2 separate regions of the Homo sapiens genome follow, and region 1 is linked to region 2. Evidence: fine-mapped expression QTL. Tissue or cell type: whole blood. Region 2 holds a variant in brackets; the other region holds the start of a gene. All regions are shown on one strand. Distances are from middle to middle.

Region 1 (2,680 bases), 42 kb after region 2:
GTGGGTCTCCTCATGGAAGAGGGGGACTGGAAGAAGGGCTGGGGGGTGGGGTACGTTTCACAGAGTCGAGTTGGGCTCAGCCTGTCACAGCTGGAAAGGTCTTACCAATCACAAGAGGGGCTCGCGGCCCAGAGAGGAAGGGAAATGTTTGTAAGGCTACATGGGAGACAACTGGCAGAGCTGGAGAACCCAGGGGTCTACCTGTGCAGCTCAGAGCTCTTTCCTCAAGATGTCAGCGCCACTGGGCAATGGTGATGGAGGCTGGAGGGGCAGCAGTGATGGGAGTAGGGAGGGTGGACAGCCTGTCTGGGGACACAGGGTGGGGCAAGCCAGCCTCCTCGTGGCCTGGGCCTGCCAGGGTGTGTGGGCTGCCTGCTCCCAGCCCCCCACCCTGAGCATGCAAGAAGAACAATCCCCTTGTGTTTGGGCAGCCTGAGCCTGCATGCTGATGAAGGCTAGGGGGTGGGGGCTGGGATGGGGGTGCCCTGGAGGTTGAGGGGGCTCCAGGACCTGGGAAGACCAGGGGATTTTTTCAGATGGGGAAAGAATAGGGTCCCAGGTACTGGTCCTGAGGCAATGAGGGTGACCCAGGGAACAGGGAGGGCAGGAGCTCAGCTCCTAGGGAGTTCATGGATTGTAAGAGCCTTTGTGGCGGAAGGCAAGCCCCTGGGGACACATGTCCTGCTGGTTCAGCACGAACATGAGCATCCTGGGCTTGGTGGGGAGAAAGGAATGCAACTGGCCCTGGGTGCATCATCACCTTGGAGACCACTCCCCTGGGTGCTGGGGCCGGGTGGGGCACTGGGTGCCACAGGTCTCAAGATGGCGGGCCAGGGATAGGGGAGAGAGGAGGCGGGCACCTCCCTCTCCTGGCCAGGCAGGCATGAGGGCCAGGCTGAAGTGAGTAGCAGAGCCTCCCACCCCCACCCCCCAGGACCCCAGCCAAGAAGCTAGGTCAGAGCTGAAGGGCTGAAGAGCTATGGGGCAAGAGGGACCACTCTGAGCCCCCAGCTGTCATCTCCATACACCCCTGGCCTGGAGGTCTGTATCTGGCTCCCCCAACGACTGCGGAGGATGGGAAGGAGTGTGTGCCCAGCCAGGAGCTACAGGGGAGTGGCAAGTGAGGGCAGAGATGGAGCAGAACCAGAACCCAGGGCAGGAGTCAGAGAGAGGAGCAGGCGCAAAGGACAGAAACAGCGAGTGGGATGGGGGCCTCAAATCTGGGATCTAAGGTCCAGGAAGCCCCTCCCTGGTGCCAAGGGCGCCTCTGGCAGACCAGCGCCTCCCACCTGTGCAGGCCTCAGCGGTGTGGGACAGAGAACGTGTTCCTCGCAGTCTCACAAACCTGCGACCCCAACCGAGGGATCTGGGCGCGGGCTCCCTGCCCCCGGGCGAACCCCCAAACTTCGCGGCCCGCCGTGCCCCGCCCGGCCCGCGCCCTACCTCGCTGGGGCTGTCCTGCGGCGGCGGCGGCGGCGGCACGGCGGCTGGGCCGCTCAGTCCCACATTGTCCCCGGGAGAGGCGGCCGCTCACAACTGCGAGTGACATCAGCTGCGAACAATGAGGGGTTTGACAGGCGCGGAGCCCGGCCGGCCCGGAGCCCGGCTCCGCGCCCCCCCCCCACCCCCCGGCCCGCCCGGCCCGGCCCCTCCCCGCCCCCTCCCCGGATCCGATTACAGAGCGGCGGGCCCGCCCCAGCCGCCCCAGTGCCGCAGCCGCCCGCCCCGCCCCGCGCGCCGCGGTGCGCCCCGAGCGGCGGCCGCTTCCTGGAGGGCTCGGGCGACCCTTCCCCTGCCACTCCCAGAGCCCCACGGGTTGGGGGTAGGGGCGTCCGGCCTGAAGCCCGGTCCCCAGCCACGGCCTTCCCCGCACCGCCCGCGCTGCGCCCGGCTCCAAGCCCCTCCGCTCCCGCCAGGCCAGTCCTTCCGGCCCGGGCCGCCCGCCCGGCGCCTCTGCCGAGCCCCCTGCACCCCCATCCCCGCCTTGGCCCCGCCAGCCCCGGCTCCGCCTCGCTCCCGGCCCGCGTCCCTCCGAGCTCCGGCTGGGACCCTGCGCCCCGCCTAGCTCCCGGCTCTGCTCGCTGCGCGCCATCCTCCGCTCGGGCTTGCGCCCACCAAGACCCGCTCTCCTCGGCCACCCACAGCTGCATGGCCCGGCCCTCGTCCGCGCAGGACAGGCTGGAGGAGGGGCCTGAGAGCCGTGTGGCCCTGTGCACCCGATCCTGTGATAACCCCAAATCTACCCCCGGAATTCCTTTTGGGGATAGGGTCGCAAGGAACGGGCTCCGTTGAGTCTTTTACTGGGGAAGGGATACTAGTGGGGGTGATGAACTGTTCTCAAGTCCGCTGGGCACCCCCCGCCCTCGGGGAAGCAACTATTCCTTCCCCCCCACTCCTCCATAATCGGCTCAGCCTGGTCCCACTGACCTCCACCTCCCCCCACAGCTGAGTCTCTTGGCACCTGGGTATGTGTGGGTGGGGAGGGGAATCCAATCTCCCTTCCTCTCCATCTGGCCTGGTGGACAAAGGGCAGGGGGACCATCTGGTCCCGCCGGGGTGGGGGAGGGGCCCACAGTGTTGGTCCCAGGGGTGGGGGAGGGGCGGCGCTCTTTAGAAGCAGGAGCCGGTGGGGTCTAATTGCATCACTTTATTTCACCGACCTCCACTCTGGCTCCCACCC
Region 2 (2,680 bases):
TCTACTAAAAATACAAAAATTAGCTGAACGTGGTGGCAGGTGCCTGTAATCCCAGCTACTCGGGAGGCTGAGGCAGTGAATTGCTTGAATCCAGGAGGCCGAGGTTGCAGTGAGCCAAGATCATGCCACTGCACTCCAGCCTGGCAACAGAGCGAGACTGCGTCTCGAAAAAAAAAAAAAAAAAATTGGCAGGTAAAAGAATTGTTAATGGTGATAAACTAAATGTTCGCTCTTATGATTGGGAACAAGACAATGGGTCCACTCTCACCACTCCTGCTCAAGATTGTACTGGAAGTCTTAGTGCAACAAGGCATGAAAAAGAAATAAAAACCATACACATTCGAAAAGAAATAAAAGTGTCCATATTCACAGTGACTGTCTACATAGGAAATCTCAAAGACTCCACCAAAGGCCCCTAAAACTAAGTGAGCTTAGCAAGATTAAAATAAGGATTTATTTTCATGCTCAAAGAAAAAAAATATGTAAGGTTAACATACAAAATTTAATCATAGGTCCATATACTTCCATGAATTGTTGGAAACCAAAATTATAAAAACAATATCATTTACAATAGCTCCAAAAATATAATGCTTGGATTTATCTAATCTAATAAAACACATATCTAATAAAACATGAGCAGAATACATATTCTGAAATATACAAAATGCTGATGACCAAAATAAAAAGACACAAATAGAAAGATATATCATGTCTATTGATTGGGAGACTCAATATAGCTAAATACTCCCCAAATTGGTCCATAAATTAAACGTCATTTGAATCAAAATCCCAGCAGAATTTTAGAAGAGACAAGCTGATTCTAAAATTTATGTAGAAAAGCAAAGGAACTAGAATAGCACAATTTTGAAGATTAAAAAAAGTTGAAAGACTCACATAACTCAATTTTAAGACTTACTATAAAGCTATAGTAATCAAAACATTATGGCATTAGTGAAGATTAGAAGCACAGATAAATCGATCACAATAGAATGTCCGGAAATAGATCTCCACAAATATGACTAATTGCTTTTTTTTCCCACAAAGATGCAAAGGCAATTTAATGGAGAAAGAGTAGTCTTTTTTTTTCAATGGTGTTGGGATAATTGGACATCTATCAGAAAATTTAAAAAGGAAGACTCTCAGCCTAAACTTCCTACCTTATAAAAAATTAACCCAAAATGGATTATAGCTGTAAATGTAAAATGTAAAACTTTAAGAAGAAAA[CAA/C]GAGAAAATTTTTCATAATATTGGGGTAAAGAAATACTTCTTAGATATAACACCAAAAGCATTATCCATGAAAGAAAAAATGAATTTGACTTCAAAATTTAAAACTTTTGCTCAGTGTAGGTCAGGCGCAGTGGCTCACGCCTGTAATCCCAGCACTTTGGGAGGCTGAGGCGGGCGGATGAGGTCGGGAGTTCGAGACCAGCCTGACCAACAGGGAGAAACCCCATCTCTACTAAAAATACAAAATTAACTGGGCATGGTGGTGCATGCCTGTAACCCCAGCTACTCCAGAGGCTGAGGCAGGAGAATTGCTTGAACCTGGGAGGCGGAGGTTGTGGTGAGCCAAGATCACGCCATTGAGCTCCAGCCTGGGCAACAAGAGTGAAGCTCTGTTTCAAAAAAAAAAAAAAAAAATTTTGTTCAGTGAAAAAGACTGTTAACAGAATGGAAAAGCAAGCCACAGAATTGGAGAAAATATATGCAAATCACATTCTAGAAGGGACTTATTTATTGAGAATTCTCAAAATTAAATAATAAGTAAACAAACCCAATTAAAAATGGACAAAGGACTTGAACAAACACAGCATCAAAAAGGATGTAATGATAGCAAGTGAATGTATTAAAAGATGTTCAATATAATTAGCCATTAGGAAAATGCAAATTAAAACCACAATGAGATATCACTATGCCCCTGTTAGAAATGCTAAAATTAAAAATCCTGGCAACACCAAGAGTTGGCAAGAATGACGAGGAACTGGAACACTCATACACTGCTGGTTGGAATGAGAAAAATACAACCATGCTGGAAAATGGTTTGGCAGTTTCTTATAAGGTAAACATATACTTACCAAATCGTCCAGCAATCCCACTCCTGGGTATCTGCCCAAGTGAAATTAAACCTTACGCTCACATAAAAACATGTACACAAAGGTTCACAGCAGTTTTAATTGTAATAGCCAAAAACTGGAAACAACCCAATGTGCTTCAAAGGGTAAATGGATACACCAACTGCTGTAATTCCAGCAGTGAAAAGGAACAAGCTGTTGATACACACAACCACTTGTACAAACTCAGAGACATTAGGTTGAGTAATAGAAGCCAGTCTCAAAATGTTATATGCTGTATAATTCCATTTATTTGACATTCTTTTTTTTTTTTTTTTTGAGATGGAGTCTCACTCTGTCACCCAGGCTGGAGTGCAGTGGGGCGATCTCTGCTCACTGCAAGCTCCACCTCCCGGGTTCACGCCATTCTCCTGCCTCAGCCTCCCGAGTAGCTGGGACTACAGGCGCCCGCCACCACACCCAACTATTTTTTTTGTATTTTTAGTAGAGATGGGGTTTCCCCTCGTTAGCCAGGATGGTCTTGATCTCCTGACCTCCTGATCCGCCCACCTTGGCCTCCCAAAGTGCTGGGATTACAGGCGTGAGCCACCGTGCCCGGCTATTTGACAT

The links. PIP is the estimated chance that this variant, and not a neighbour inherited with it, causes the effect.
Region 1: it holds the start of PCBP4, and the variant in region 2 is fine-mapped to the expression of PCBP4 in whole blood (TOPMed, PIP above 0.99).

What each region holds. Positions count from the first base shown.
Region 1 is chr3:51,965,883-51,968,562 of GRCh38, forward strand. It overlaps PCBP4 (poly(rC) binding protein 4), which reads right to left and starts at 1,572. Exons shown (of 14, transcript NM_001174100.2): 1 at 1,444-1,572. ABHD14B (abhydrolase domain containing 14B) reads right to left here. Exons shown (of 4, transcript NM_001146314.2): 4 at 2,633-2,680. RefSeq lists enhancers at 1-414, 415-976, 2,103-2,666, 2,667-2,680 and silencers at 1,262-1,531, 1,632-1,741, 1,752-2,031, 2,062-2,141.
Region 2 is chr3:51,924,243-51,926,922 of GRCh38, forward strand. No RefSeq gene overlaps it. Among named protein-coding and RNA genes, the nearest start is that of RRP9, 16 kb to the right of the region's middle. The variant CAA/C (reference allele first, on the strand shown) is at 1,225.